Regions from separate parts of the Homo sapiens genome. Here region 1 is linked to region 2. The links come from fine-mapping of genetic effects on plasma protein levels. A gene starts in region 2. The other region holds a variant in brackets. All regions are shown on one strand. Distances are from middle to middle.

Region 1 (8,000 bases), 13 kb before region 2:
ACCTGGCTAATTTTTGTATTTTTAGTAGACACAGGATTTCACTATGTTGGCCAGGCTGGTCTCAAACTCCTGACCTCAGGTGATCCACCTGCCTCAGCCTCCCAAAGTGCTGGAATTACAGGCATGAGCCACCTCTCCTGGCCATGACTCAGTTTTTATCTTTCATCATCTCTTAGCTTTGCCTTATCCAAACTGGCTCACTATCATCTGCTTAGAACATGTTCTACCCTTGGTGACAGTGGGGCACACTCTCACAGTGAGTGCCTTTTCCCTTGGCCAGAGTCCTTCCTTCTCATGTCCCATTTCCTCTACTGGGACTAGACTGGGGGTTCTGTCCAACTGGACACTCCCTTGTTGGGCTCCCTCCTTCACGCCTGGCTGCTCCTCAAACAGGTTGCTCTATGACCTGATCCCCACTGTACTGCTGGAGTGGTTTTCCCCAACATTTAAAACCTTCATGGAGCCCAGATTGCCCTGCAGAATATGGCCCAAGCCCTTACTCTGCTTCTAAGTAGGTTCTAATGATGTTGTCTTCCCCAACCTTATCTTGTGGTTCTCCACTGTTCTGTCTATGGTTCAGTCATCAAGAACTGACCACTCTCCAGTTCCTTGAAAGTGTCCTCCCTCCCTCACCACAATCCTCTTCTCCATCAGGTCTCATCTTGTTGCGGGAAGTCAGGGACCCCGAATGGAGGGACCAACTGAAGCCATGGCAGAAGAACATAAATTTTGAAGATTTCATGGACATTTATTAGTTCCCCAAATTAATACTTTTATAATTTCTTATGCCTGTCTTTACTGCAATCTCTGAACATAAATTGTGAAGATTTCATGGACACTTATCACTTCCACAGTCAATACCCTTGTGATTTCCTATGCCTGTCTTTACTTTAATCTCTTAATCCCATCATTTTTGTAAACTGAGGATGAATGTCACCTCAGGACCCTGTGATAATTGTGTTAACTGCACAAATTGTTTAAACAATATGAAATCTGGGCACCTTGAAAAAAGAACAGGATAACAGCAATGTTCAGGGAACAAGGGAGATAACCTTAAACTCTGGCTGCCTGTGAGCTGGGTGGAACAGAGTCATATTTTTCTTCTTTCTAAATCAAATAGGAGAGATATCACTGAATTCTTTTTCTCAGCAAGGAACATCCCTGAGAAAGAGAATATGTCCCTAAGGGGAGGCCTCTGAAATGGCCGCTTTGGGGATGGCTGTCTTTTATGATCGTTGCTGAGGGATGAAATAAGCTCTGGTCTCCTGTAGTGCTCCCAGGCTTATTAGGACGAGGAAATTCCTGCCTAATAAATTTTGGTCAGACTGGTTGTCTGCTCTCAAAACCCTGTCTCCTGATAAGATGTTATCAATGACAATGCGTGCCCGAAGCTTCATTAGCAATTTTAATTTCGCCCCGGTCCTGTGGTCCTGTGAGCTCACCCTGCCTCCATTTGCCTTGTGATATTTTATTACTTTGTGAAGCATGTGATCTCTGTGAGCCACACCCTATTAGTACACTCCCTCCACTTTTGAAAATCACTAATAAAAACTTGCTGGTTTTATGGCTTAAGGGGCATCATGGAACCTGCCGACATGTGATGTCGCCCCCGGACACCCAGCTTTAAAATTGTTCTCTTTTGTACTCTGTCCCTTTATTTCTGAGACCAGCTGACACTTAGGGAAAATAGAAAAGAACCTATGTAAAATATTGGGGGTGAATTTCCCCCGATATCATCTCAAATTCCAAGAATTGTTTTCTCACTTTCCAACTCAGATTGGCATGCCTTTCATCTGCTCCTGCAGCCACCAGGTACTTCTAAACTTAGGTTGATGTTTTCTCTATTACTTGACTGCATTTGCTATTAGCCCCTGTGAACTGTGTGGGCAGGGCCAGGTTAGTGTAGTCTTAGATGCATCCTTAGATGTCACTACATCTAGGTGTATATATAGAATCAGCATTTAGTAGGTGAAGAAGTGGGTCATTTAATAGGACTTTAAACATCTCTGAGTGTGTTTGATCATGATGTCCCTGTCTCCACTTTCCTTGGGCCTCTGAATGTTAGGAGTACTGTTCTTTTTCTACATCATTTGATGACTCCCCCTGGGTTCCCTGGCCCTCTCCTTTATAATCACACACATCCATGTGGGAGGGACTGGATTCTTGCTTGTCTTCCAAGGTGGTATTATTGTTTTACAGGAAAGGAAACTGAGGCCGCTTCCGGGACCAACCAAGACTGGACTCTCTGTCTCCAGTATAGGCCCAAATCACACTGTCTCCTTCAACATTGAACCTGGCCATTTAGCCACACATGGATGGTTCAAAACTGAGATCCAAAGCTCAAAGGAAACCTTTTTGATGTCATAACTATTTGACAGTTACCTGAGTAGCCGTGAGGGCATTAAGCCAAGCAAGTAGAGGTTAAGCTGTCTCCTGACCTGCCCTCAGCCCACTGCTGTCTGTGCCTTTCTTACCTACTGCCCAATCAACCCTAAAAAAGGCTTGAGCAAGGGAGACATGTTGGGTTAACTGTGATCCAGCGACTTGTCTTTGTGTCTTACATGACTTTGCATCTGGTTATTCATTGATGTCTGATGTTAACTGGACAGGGGACATTTCTGTGCTCCTGAGAACTGAGTCTGAGTCTATATCTACTAAGAATAATTTAGTAAACAAAAATCAGGCATCTGGCAGATCTACAGGACAAGTGGAGAGCACAAGAAAAGCAATTGGCTGCTCAGAATTTGAGGAGCAGGGAAAAGAAAGCTGCTACATCATTAGGCAGGGGTGGGAAGGCACCCAGACTGCAATGGGATGAGGCTCAAGGGGCAGACAGCTGGTTCAGTGAGCTAGAGAGTGGAGGAGGATATTAGGTTGTTTCAAGAAAGAAACAGAGGATACTAGAAGGTACACGCTGACTTCTGAAGGGTTGGGTAAGAGAGGACTCTTGGCCAGGGGTGGGTGATTGGCAGGAACCCAGGGCTTACCAGTGACGGAGAGGCTCACCGCCTTACTGCGCTGGGGGCCAAAGCCATTGTCAGCTGTGCAGTAGTAGTTCCCTGAATGCTCTGCAGTCAGAGAGAAGCTGATGGCCACTCCTCCTGCAGAGTTGGCCGACCTACGCTCCAGGGCAGCACCCTCATGATGAAACTGGTACAGGATGGGGAGTGAACCTCTCTGGGCTTCACAGTGAAGTGTCACCTTGGCTCCCTCAAAAATCAGGTCCTCAGGAGAGCTGAGGTTGAGGACAGGATGAGACACGGGAACTGAGAGAGAGAAAAAATTAGTCAAGATTTGTTTCTGCCTCCTGCTGTAGTTTTCATAAAAGGAAAATAAATCTTGGGAACCCCAAATCACTAAGCCAAAGGGAAAAGTCAAGCTGGGAACTATTTCAGGCAAACCTGCTTTTTATTTTATTCCTTAATAAGATAACTTCAAAGACTTTTCTAAAAGCTACATACCTCCCTCAAAATTTGTCCACTGAAATATTATTTGTGGGCCCCAAGATCTTTACCCTAAAATGGTTCTGTTTTAAATGGTTCTGTTTTACCCTAACAGTGTAAATTGATAGCTGATTTTCACAAGTGCAGGACAAAAGACAGAACTTTAAGTCATTGCTGCTTACAGGAGACAAATGCATATCTGATTATTTCCCTGACTTAAAAATGCAGACTCACTGGGCTAAAGGAAGACAGAAGTGACTATTCCTCTGCCCCTCTCTCACATGTAAATTGTGTATTCTGCTAAAGGTTGATCAAAGACTCAAAAGAATGCAACTGTTTGTCTGTTATTTACACATACTTTTAAAAAAATTTCTTCCTTTTTCTCCATATCTTCCCTTTCACCTTTAAATATTGAAACCCTCAAAATCATCTTTGGAGAAGGCAGGGAGCTGAATCTGGGGCACATGTCTTTAGCCATGGCAAAATATACTATCCAAATTGATTGAGACCTGTCTCAGATAGTTTTTGGTTCACAGATTCAATGTTTCACCAGTGCAGTTGTTCAGTCTCCAGTCCACAGGCTCTACCCACCTGCAGGGTGACCCAGCCACTTCCCAGGCTACTCTCACCAGCTCTCCTGTCCTCCATCCTAGTCATTCCCTGTCTTTTCCTTTTCCACCAGACCTCTTGTCTTTTCTCCTCTCCCAGCTCCCCTTGTTGTAGGACCTGCCTCTGTTGTGCAGAGATGTTGCTCTCAAAGAATTCCCTTGTCTTTCCACCAGCAGAACCACACCCTTACCTGCATCAGCTCCTCACTCTGACCTGGGCCCTGAGGCTATGGAGGAGCCCTCCTTGGCCTGCCTGGGGGGATTTTCTTCTGTCTTTTCATCCTGTGCTCACCTGCCTCTGTCCTAGATAAAAGGTTTTTACCTCTACTGGCTTCTTGCAAACACCATTTGCATGTGTTTAACCCTCTCCATGTTTAAAAAAAAAAAAAACCATCAGACAATAGAAAAACAACCCTATTTGCATTTGCAGTTCCTCACAGTCGGTTTCTCC[G/A]CCTTTCTGTAGTCAGTCTTCTGGAAGAAGTGACCTACCTTTAACATCTCTACTTCTTTATCTCATATCTCATATGCATGTTTTGTCCATTACAACTTGGTTTTAATCCCCAACAATCTACTAAAGTGGATTTTCATGTTTCTGAATATAATTATGATGATAAAGATAAAAATAATAAAATAGATGTTTGTTATAATGACACTATAGTGTCTTTAAGTAAGTTCTGGTGTTTGTATATTTGTTGGATGTAATTTGTAAATATCGATATATAGAGAGACTCTAATTTAATCATCTAAGCAATTCATTGAGGTGGGTATTATTGTTGCCCCTCTTTCACAGATGAACATGCTGAGGCCCCGAGTGGGTGAGTCACACAGCTAGTAAGTGAAGAGGCAGCAGTCAAACCCAGGTATTCTGATTCTAGTCTGTCTTCTGCCAAAGAGTACTTTGTGGCTAAATTCACTGGATGTGACTCAGTTTTTATCTGTCATCATCTCTTAGCTTTGCCTTATCCAAACCAGCTCCCTCTCTTCTGCTTAGAACACATTCTGCCCTTGGTGACAGTGGGGCACACTCTCACAGTGCCTCTTGCTTCAACCGGAGTCCTTCCTTCTCAAGTCCCAACTCCTCTACTGGGACTGGCCTGGGGTTTGCTCCAACTGGACGCTCTCTTGATGAACCCTCTCTTTTACTCCTGGCTGCCCCCCAAACTGGCTGCTCTATGACTCATTTCTCACTGTGCTGCTGGAGTGGTTTTCCCCAAGATTTAAAGCATTCATGGAGCCCAGATTGCCCTGCAAAATATGGCCCAAGCCCTTACTCTGCTTCTAAATATGGTCTAAACATACCTTCCTCTCCAACCTTATCCTACCTTTCTCCACTGTTCAGTCTGTGCTGCAGTCGTCAAGAACCGACTGCCCCTCCAGTTCCTGGAACATGCCTTCCCTCCCTCACCACAATCCTCTTCTCCTGAAATGTTCCCACTCATCCTCAGGTCTCAACTCACACATGAGTTCTTCCAAGAAATTTTTTCTCACTTCCCAACTCAGATTGGCATGCCTTTCCATCTGCTCCTGCAGCCACCAGGTGCTTCTATCCTCAGGTTGATGTTTAATCTCTTACTTGACTGCATTTGCTATTAGCCCCTACGAACTGTGTGGGGAAGGCCAGGTTAGTGTAGTCGTAGATGCATCTTTAGATGTCAGTACAGTCTGGTCCATGGAATATATGCAATCAGCATTTATTAGGTGAAGAAGTGAGTCATTGAATAGGACTTTAAACATCTCTGAGCATGTTTGATCATGATGTCACTGTCTCCACTTTCTTTGGGCCACTGAATGTCAGGGACACTGTTCTCTTTCTACGTCATTTGATGTCTCCCGCTGGGTTCCCTGGTCCTCTCCTTTATAATCTCACACATCCATGTGGGAGGGACTGGATTCTTGCTTGTCTTCCAAGCTGGTATTATTGTTTTACAGGAAAGGAAACTGATGCCGCTTCCAGGACCAACCAAGACTGGACTCTCTGTCACCAGTATAGACCCAAATCACACTGTCTCCTTCAACATTGGACCTGGCATTCAGCCATGCATGGATGGTTCGAAACTGAGATCCAAAGCTCAAAGGAAACCTTTTTGATGTCATAACTATTTGGCAGCTACCTGAATAGCTCTGAGGGCATTAAGCCAAGCAAGTAGAGGTGAAGCTATCTCCTGGCCTGCCCCCAGCCCACCATTGCCCGTGCCTTTCTTACCTACTGCCCATCAACTCTAAAAAAGGCTTGAGCAAGAAGGACATGCTGGGTTAACTATGATCCAGCGACTTGTCTTTGTGTCTTACATGTCTTTGCCTTTGGTTTATTGATTAATGTCTGATATTAACAGAACAGGAGATACCTCTGTGCTCCTGGAAATTGAGTCTGTGTCTACTGAGAATAATATAGTGAATGAAAATCAGTCATCTGGGGAGCCACAGGACAAGTGGAAAGCACAAGAAAAGCACTTGGCTTCTCAGAAATTGGGAACCAGGGGATAGAAAGCCACTGCACCATCAGGCAGGGGTATAAGGGCACCTAGACTGCAATGCAACGAGACTCAAGAGGCAGACAGCTGGTTCAGTGAGCCGGAGAGTGGAGGAGGACATTAGGTTTTCCCAAGAAAGAAACTGAGGATACTGGAAGGTATATGCTGACTTCCGAAGGGCAGGGTGAGGCAGGACTCTTGGCCAGGGGTGGGTGATTGGCAGGAATGCAGGGCTTACCAGTGACTGAGAGGCTCACAGCCTTACTGGGCTTGGCGCCAAGGCCATTGTCAGCTGTGCAGTAGTAGTTCCCTGAATTCTCTGTAGTCAGTGAGAAGCTGATGGATGCTCCCCTTTCACAGCGGACTGACTTGTGCCTCAGGGGGACACCCTCATGATAAAACCTGTACAAAGTGCGCAGAGAATCTTCCTGGGTTTCACAGTGAAGTGTCACCTTGGTTCCCTCAAAATTCAGAGCCTTTTCAGGGCTGAGAGTGAGGACAGGATGAGATGCAGGGACTGAGCAAGAGAAAAAATTAGTCAAGAATTGCTTTTGCCTCTTACTGTAGATTACAAGGCATGGCCAGTGCAAATGCCCAGTCTCCAGTCTCCACCCTTAACTTGCTGCCATCAGAACCACACACCCTTACCTGCACCTGCTTCTTGCTCCTTCCTTCTGCCCTATGACTATGGAATGTTGCACCTGAAGTGCCCAATTATTCTGAGTCTTCTTTCCTATCCCTGTTTATTTCTCCTTCACTTGCATTGGCCTCAGGGATTTATTTGCCATTGCTAGTTTTTCCTTAAAGATTAGCATAGTCTTCTAGAGCTTTTTCTTCTGCTCCTACTCTCTCCCTTGGCCCAGACTGACCTTCTTTATTTACAGGTGAGAAAACTGAGTCAAGGAGAGACTAGGAGACCTGCCTGTGTAGGCTGTTTTCAGGGCCAGCCAGGGCCAGAGTTGGTGTCCTGACTCCTAGTCTGGTGATGATCACATTGCCTCCTTATAAGTGAGCCCGGAGTTTGCCATGAGTGGAGGGATGACACAGGGCTCTACAGAAGCTGTTTTTCCCTCATCACTGTAACTACCATAATAGCTTTGAAGGAAGGATGGTGCTGTATACTAGTAAGGGAGGTGATGTAATCTGGGGTGCATATTTGTACTCATAACTAGGGAATGGTAAACCTCCAGAGTCACATATTTGGAGTAACTATAATGTTGCAACCTGTCTTTGTATCCTACAGAAATTTTCACTTTGGTTATTGTCAATAAGTAATGTTAATTGGGACAACAGATACCTCTGTACACCAGAGTCAGAGAGCTATGCCACAGCCCATGGCTTATCCCTATGGGCCTAGAAGAAAAAAAAATGATGTCAGGGAAGAGAACCCTGCGAGAGAAAAGAAAGAATTGTATTTAATGGCATTGAAAGAAAAAAAATTAGACCTTTCTTTTCTTGGATTTTCCTGGGTCTAAGCT
Region 2 (8,536 bases):
ACCGCATGTTCTCACTCATAGGTGGGAATTGAACAATGAGAACACTTGGACACAGGAAGGGGAACATCACACTCCAGGGCCTGTTGTGGGGTGGGGGGAGGGGGGAGGGATAGCATTAGGAGATATACCTAATGTTAAATGACGAGTTAGTGGGTGCAGCGCACCAACATGGCACATGTATACATATATAACAAACCTGCACGTTGTGCACATGTACCCTAAAACTTAAAGTATAATAAAAAAAAGGAAAGAAAACAGGAGATATTGGAGATCTCAGGCAGCCATCACAAATGTTTTCTATTTATTAGGAAGAGACACTCTTAACCAGAGACGCTGAAGAGCCAAAGACAGGAGAACTCACCAAACTGTCCACTGACAGGAGCTGCAAAAAAATAAGAGCCAGAGATGAGCACAGAACCATGATTATTTTGTTTTAAGAAGATAATTCCCTTTTTTACCCATGCATGTATTACTTGTCCCTTTAAAAAATTCATTTAAAAACTCTAATAATTATTCATCAAATGTATATATATACACATAAATATACATATATATACATATATATATGGCATGGTATTTGGACTTCTACAATGAATTTTAAAAATGGTATCTGCCATCAAGAAGTTGACTAGTGGAAAAACAGAAACACGATTTAAAATAATATAACACAGGGTGTAAGTGCAATAACAGAAATACACATGGGGTATGTTGGGGGCAGAAGGGCCACTAGCCCAGTGTGTAGGATATATGTGTGTGTGTAGAGTGTGTGTTTGTGTGTACATGTGTTGAACAGGATGGGTGGATCCTTGAAGGTACCTGAAGGAGATGATACTTCACAAAACTGTGAGTGAGAACATGAGTCTGCAGGTGGATGTTAGCATTTGTGTGTGGTAAGAGGCGATTTCTACCTTTCAAGGTAGAAAGGGCACAGAAGTGGAGAAATGACATTGGTGCTCAGGAACTGGGAGTGTTGGGGGAAATAAGACCAGAGAAGCATGCAGGGCCTGAGTAAGTGGTTCTAATTTTATTATAAAAGTGATAAGGAGTCATGGAATGGTTTCAAGGAGGAGATTGACAAGGTTAGAATTTCAGACTTTGATGGAGCACTCTGTCAGTGGACAGAATTTAATGGGACAATATGAAGCAGGGAGACTGATTAGAAGGCAGGGCAAGGAAATGGACATGAATTAAGCCTCCCTTGGGCACCAGACTCCAGGCTATACTCTTTTCATGAGATCATTGAATCCAAGGGCTCATTATCATCATGCCTAATTTTTAAACAATCAACTGATGCTCAGATTATTTAGACCTGATGCTCAGCCCAAGAGATGGTAATGTGTAATTTTTGTCAGAGTATTTATCCAAATTATCTTCATTATCTGCTTGTTTATTTTCCCTTCTCTATAATGCAAGCTCTATGAGACCTAGGACTTTCCTTATGTTCACCATATATCCTCCAGGACCTATAACGGTGAATGGCATATAAAAGATATTCCTTTAATGTTCACTAAATATATTTGTGTTGTATAATGAATTAATTAAAGAACTAGGTTAATAATATAGGAATAGAAGGATAGAGATTTGAGAAATGGGTAATGAAGAGAGAGAGGACACAAAACTGGCAGGTTTATCAATTGAGTAGGTATTCTGCATATGGGTTGATTTATTTATTCAACAGATTTTTGGAATGCCAATCATACTCCAGAGCAAGGCAATAGAAATCCAGGAGTGTGTGAGAGACAAATCATCCCTGTCCACATGAGGCTATTGGAGACTTATCCAAACTTAAGTGTTTTACTGAGAACAACAAATTATTCACCATTCACCTGAATATTTTGGCTTCCTTCATCTTTGCATTGTTTTAAATGAAGCTAATATTTTTGTGAGTGGTTTCTATATGGTCTGCATTTACGTAGGTTATTTCATATAACCATGTCAATAATCCTGTGAGGTAAGCACTAGGATTAACTGCATTTTGTAGACCAGGAATCTGGTAGCCAGTAGGTGGCAAGATGAAGTTTGAACCTAGATCCTGTTTGACCCCAGAGCCCATGTTATAAACTTTGCCCTCTCATGCTCAGGACCTGGCCATTACCCACATTGTGTGGGGCCACACTGAGATGTATTCCTACTTCAGGAATTATAGTCCATGCACCTTCCAACTGTGAGGTCCTCTTTTCTTATATCACGCCTGCTCCATTTCTGCTCCTCTAGCTCCTACTCACCTCTAAGTTTCATGAAGTCTTTACTAGCTATTTTGAATACAGTTTATTATCTGCCTACAGCATTCATTGGTAACTTTGCCTGGACAATTATTTAACTGGGAGCTTGTTGCATAGCTGCTTGAAAGTACATTGGCCTTGCTGGGAGCCCTTCTATGTCATGACTTTCCAGAACATAGACGTAGTGTCTCCTATGGACTCTAATTGCTCAGCACCTGTGCATAGATATTACTAAACACATTTGCTGAACAAATAAATAAACATATTTAATTATAATATTTAACCTTTAGTAAAAATCAACCAGTTCGCACATATGAGTTGATAGAGACTTACGTACACCCACAGGGACAAAGAGAAAGTCATATGCTTTAGATTTATCCTTGCTTTGTCCACCTACGCCTCTGCGACCTCCTCCACCCCATGTTCTTAATCAGCCAATTGCTGCAGTGGTTTGCAATTATGTACAAGAGAAAGACCTGTCTTTCCCGTTAGAAACCTTGCCTCTTATGCTGGGGACCAGGATCTGGCCTTGTCATACAAGGAATAAATACATCTCCTCTGCAGAGAGGAGAGTGGGCTCTTCTATGAGTAAGACAATATGAACAAACAAACATGAAACATTCTCTGGACTTTAAGAAGTACTTTTTAAAGAAAAAAATAAATGAAATTTTAATTGTTGTGGTTATTGTGGTTTCCTACTCTGTAAGATTGAAAATTCCTTCCAGCTGTGGCCATTTTCTTCAGCCTCAAGAGAAAGCCCTGAGCTACAGAGTAAAGTTCAAAAATACAGTCTCCTAATGTAGGAGAGAGTCTCTCAGCAGGGGCTGAGCCCCAAGAAAGGACCAGGCCTGCGGTGGAGAGAGAAGCTGTCCCGATCCCACCCAGGGCCCATGGTGAGCCCTTTTACTCACCCAGGACCAGTAATATCACCCACAGCAGCATGAAGACCTGGACCACCAAGGGCTGAGATCAAAAGAGAAGTTTCCTCAATTCCAAAACAGGTTTGGACTTGATCTTACAGTCAGGACACTGCACACCAGCTCCAAGGAGCACATCTGAGAAGCTGTGCTCTCAAAAAGAGCAGAATGCATTAGTGAATTGAAAAAAGGAAGTGGGAGTACCCGTCTTCAGCTGCTAATCACAGTTTCCTACCCGATGATCAAAGAAAAAAAAAAGTTAAGGTTTTAAAAAATCAAATACCCTTGACCCTACATTTTTGCTATTGGGAAATTACCCTGAAGGAAGTATCTGAAGAGAGTACTATAAGAACGTTTATTGTAGCATTCATTATTGCCTAAACACTGGAAACAAAACAAAAAACCATGATATGGGGACTGTTTAAGAATATTCTGATTCATCCGTATGGTGACAAGCAATCATTAAAGAATAAGGTAAATCTGAACATGCCAAGAAGGGAAGACCACCTTGTTTGATGTGAAGAGAATAAAAGTGAGATATAGATTGGTTTTGTAGTATTATCCCATTGGGTAAATATAAAAAATAGGATATATGTGTACATCAACTCTTTTAAGTATACTTTCTTCTTTTCCTGGAAAGTACACACAAAAATATTGATTATGTTTGAGGAGCAATAGGTGGGAAGAACACAATTTATTTTATGTATTTCTGTACCGTTTGATTTTTTAAAAAATTACCAGGTGAATGTATAGCTCTTATGATTTTCTAAAAGTCAAGTTTCCATCCTGGTATACTGGTCAACAGAGGTTCCTAAGACATTAGCTGCCACGAGGAGTGCCAGTTTCTTTCTTTCAAATATTTTCTCACCCTTTCTCTCTGGGCCCATACCTTGGTCTTCCTAAGGGGGCATTTAATTTTATATCTACAAATGCACATCACCTTAGGTATATTATGTCACATCTGACCCACTGCACCCTGAGGCAAGAAAACCATACAGGGGTTACAGGGGTGAATAGAGATTAAGAGGAGAACTTCAAAGGGAACACAGAATCTTTACCTACTTTTGGTGCTAAAACAAATAGTGCTGCTATGAACATTCTTGTATACATTTATTGGGGCATATGCGCACATAATTCTGTTGGGTATATATCTGGGAGTGGAAGTCCTGGCTCATAAGGTATGCATATATTCAGTTTAGGAAGTATTACCAAATTATTTTCCAAAGTGGTTGTGCCAATTCCCACCACACCCACCAACCAATGTATGAGAGTTATCATTGTTCTAAAATTCTTGCTGATATTGGTATTGTCATCTAGTAAAATCTGGCCGTTCTGCTAGAATTATCTCAATGTGGTTTTAATTTGTATGTCTCTGGTGAATTTGAGAATGAGCATTTTTTCATAGTCTAATTGGTGATGTAGATATCCTTTTTATGTGCAATCTCTGTTCAAATATTTCCTCATTTTTCTCTTAACTTTCAGTCTTTCTTTTCCTGTTTTGTAGTTATTTTAAACCCTGAATATAAACCTTTTGTTGGATATATGTATTGCAAATGTCTTCCTTCAATCTGTGGCTTGCTTCTTTGCTCATTGATAGTGCCTTTTGATGAACAACCATTCTAACTTTGACATAGTCCAGTTTATCAGTCTTCTCCTTTGTGGTTAGAGATTTTTGCATCCCTTCTAAGAAAGTTAGTCTACTCCAAGATCATAAAGATACTCTCCCAGGTTATCTTCTAGAAACTTTATTTTTTACCATTTATTTTATATTTATAAGAGCATTGCAATTGATTTTTGTGTACAGTTTGAGTGTTTATATTCACTTTTAACTTAAATACAGATAATTTATCCTGCCCTATTTATTGAAAGTTGATTTTTTCCACAGTACAGTGCAATTTCACCTTTGTTATAAAACAAAAAGCCATGTAGGTCTATTTTTGGAAACTCCTTTCTTGTCCATTAGTCTATTTTGTCTATCCTCATGCCAATACCACACTCTTCTAATTATTGTGGCTTTATAATAACTCTTATTAACTGATAGTTTAAGTCATAAAATGCTGTTCTTCTTCAAAATTGTTATGGCTATTTTTGGCTTTTTGAATTTTTCTATACATTTAAAAATCACCTTGTCAATTCCTGTCCCCTCTCTCCCCAAAAGCCTAGTAGATTTTTAATAACTGGGATTGCATTGGATTTATAAGTTAATTTGTATAAATTAGAAAAGATTTAGTCTCCCAATCCATAAACATACAATATCCCCTCATTTATTTAGGTTAACTTGACATTCTTTCAGTAATTTTCTATAGCTTTGCCTCTGGAAAGTATATCTTTTGGTAGGTTTATCCTTAGGTTATTGATATGTTTTTTATGATATTGTAAGTGACATCATTAGATTTTTTTCTAAATGTATATTGGTATATAGAAATATAATACTTTTTTGTTTTACTGACCATTATTTTTATTTTTTTGAGACAGAGTTTTGCTCTTGTCCCCCAGGCTGGAGTGCACTGGTGCGATCTTGGCTCATTGCAACCTCCACCTCCCAGGTTCAAGCGATTCTCCTGCCTTAGCGTCCCAAGTAGCTGGGATTATAGGTGTCTGCCACCATGCCCAGCTAATTTTTGTATTTTTAGTAGAGATGAGGTTTCACCATGTTGGCCAGGCTGGTCTCAAACTCCTGACCTCAAGTTATCTGCCCGCCTTGGCCTCCAAAAGTGCTAGGATTACAAGCGTGAGCCACCATGCCCGGCCTTACTGACCTTTTAATATCTACTAAAATTGCGGAATTTACTTATTAATTTTAATAGTTTATCTTTAGGTTATTTTAGATTTCATGCAAACACAATCATATAATGATAGTTTTATTCATTATTTTTAATACTTAAACTTCCTTTTCTCTCACTTATTGCACTGACTAGGAACTCAAACATGATACTAAAGAGAAGTGGTAATATCAGGTGTCCTGTCTTAGTCTCACAGAAAAAGCTCTTAATATTTCAATATTAAATATAATATTTTCTGTAATTTTTTTTGGTGAATACTATGTATCAGATTAAATACCTTTCCTTATATTTCTAATTTGCTAAGAAATTTTCCTTTTTTCCTAAATAATGGATGCTGTTTCAGTAAATACCTTTATTGCCTCTATTAATATGATCATATGATTATTTACTTTTATTGTTAATATGATGAATTACATGGATGATTATAAATGTAAAATCAACTGTGCATTCCAACTTGGCCATGATGTGTTATCTTTTTTATATATTCTTGAATTTGACTTATAAATTTGCTGTGCTTTTTAGCATTTGTGTTCATGAGGAAGATGGACCAATTTTCTTTCTTGATGAATTTTAGTAACAAAATTATATTGGTCTCATAAGCAAGCTCCTTCTTTTTCTATTTTCGTGAAGAGTTTGTGTACGACTGATGTTATTTCTTCCTTAAATGTTTGGAAGATTTTACTGGTAAAGGTACTTACTTAGGCTTATGAAAAAATGCTCACCATCACTGGCCATCAGAGAAATGCAAATCAAAACCACAATGAGATATCATCTCACACCAGTTAGAATGGCAATCATTAAAAAGTCAGGAAACAACACGTGCTGGAGAGGATGTGGAGAAATAGGAACACTTTTACACTGTTGGTGGGAGTGTAAACTAGTTCAACCATTGTGGAAGTCAGTGTGGCGATTCCTCAGGAATCTGGAACTAGAAATACCATTTGACCCAGCCATCCCATTACTGGGTATATACCCAAAGGACTATAAATCATGCTGCTATAAAGGCACATGCACACGTATGTTTACTGCGGCATTATTCACAATAGCAAAGACTTGGAACCAACCCAAATGTCCAACAATGATAGACTGGATTAAGAAAATGTGGCACGTGTACACCATGGAATACTATGCAGCCATAAAAAATGAGTTCATGTCCTTTGTAGGGACACGGATGAAATTGGAAATCATCATTCTCAGTAAACTATGGCAAGAACAAAAAACCAAACACCACATATTCTCACTCATAGGTGGGAATTGAACAATGAGAACACATGGACACAGGAAGGGGAACATCACACTCTGGGGACTGTTGTGGGGTGGGGGGAGGGGGGAGGGATAGCATTGGGAGATATACCTAATGCTAGATGACGAGTTAGTGGGTGCAGAGCACCAGCATGGCACATGTATACATATGTAACTAACCCGCACAATGTGCACATGTACCCTAAAACTTAAAGTATAATAATAATTAAAAAAAAGTACTTAGGCTTGGAACTTTCTCTGGAGGAGGGCAAATTACAGATTTGATTTTTAAAACTGATATGAGATTATTCAGATACTTTATTTCTTCTTGTGCCAGTTTTGATATGTTGTATATTTTTAGGAATTTGCTTATCAATATTTCCAAGTCTATTGGCACAACATTATTTACAATGTCCTCATTTATTTTTTAATATATTTGAGATCTGTAGTAATGTTTTTTATTTTTTCACTCATAATATTGATAACTGTCTTCTCTTAGTCATTCTTTTATTCTTGATCAGTCTCTAGAGGGAATCATCAATTGAATTAGCCTTTTCAAAGAACCTTTTGGCTTTGTTGATTTTTCTGTATTGTATGTTCATTTTCTATTTCATTAATTTCTCCTCTTTTCTTTAATATTTACTTCATTTTACCTTTTAAAAGTTAACTTGCTTTTTAAAAACTTCTTACAGGGATACTTAGGTCTTTGATTTTTTAATCTTTTATTTTCCAATATGCTATACAGTTTTGTCTAAGTGTGACTGCAATGTGTAAGTTTTGATATGTCATATCTCTATGATCATTTTGTTAAGAATATTATTAATTTCCATTAGGGTGTTCCTTCTGGCCAATGGGTTGTTTTGAAGTGTATTGTTTCTTTTCCTAATAGAGATTTTCATTTTTGTTGATATTAATCTCTAGTTTAATTCCACTGTGGTCTGAGAACATATTTTGTGATTTCAGTCTTTTGAAATATGTTGAAATTTGCTTTATGGGCTAGTACATAGTCACGTTTTGTAAATTTTCCATGTTTTCTTTAAAACAATGTATATTTGCAAATATTGGTGCAGCATTTCATTTCTGTGAATTACATAATTTTATATTCTATATTGTGTTATTCAAATATCCTATGGTCTTACTATTTTTTCTAATATTCTATAAGTTACCAAGAGAATTATGTTAGGGTTTTCCATTATCATGGTGAATTTGTCAACTTCCTTTTTATTTCTGTCTTTTTTTGTTTTATATTTTGAAGTTATTTTATGAAGCGCTTACACATTTAGAATTGTTACCTCTTCCTGATAATTTGACACACTCGCCATTATTAAATATCTCTCTTTATCTCTGTTTCTTGCCTGAAAGCCACACTGGG

Which allele goes with the higher level. Positions count from the first base shown, and alleles are read on the strand shown. Strength reflects both the effect of a copy and how common the allele is.
In carriers of allele A in region 1, the plasma level of the protein whose gene starts at base 3,317 in region 2 tends to be lower than with G alone (strong association).

What was found. A credible set is the group of variants that fine-mapping cannot tell apart. PIP is the posterior inclusion probability: the model's chance that the variant is causal. Protein levels are from antibody-based Olink assays in UK Biobank. Linkage for the fine-mapping came from a reference panel and not from the study's own genotypes, which makes the PIPs less certain.
Region 1: its variant is the best candidate, but not a certain one, in a credible set for the plasma level of the FCRL5 protein (UK Biobank, PIP 0.52).

What each region holds. Positions count from the first base shown.
Region 1 is chr1:157,536,099-157,544,098 of GRCh38, forward strand. It overlaps FCRL5 (Fc receptor like 5), which reads right to left. Exons shown (of 17, transcript NM_031281.3): 6 at 6,761-7,039; 7 at 2,988-3,266. Among named protein-coding and RNA genes, the nearest start is that of FCRL5, 12 kb to the right of the region's middle. The variant G/A (reference allele first, on the strand shown) is at 4,503.
Region 2 is chr1:157,549,199-157,557,734 of GRCh38, forward strand. FCRL5 (Fc receptor like 5) reads right to left here and starts at 3,317. Exons shown (of 17, transcript NM_031281.3): 1 at 3,134-3,317; 2 at 362-382. The coding sequence starts at 3,164.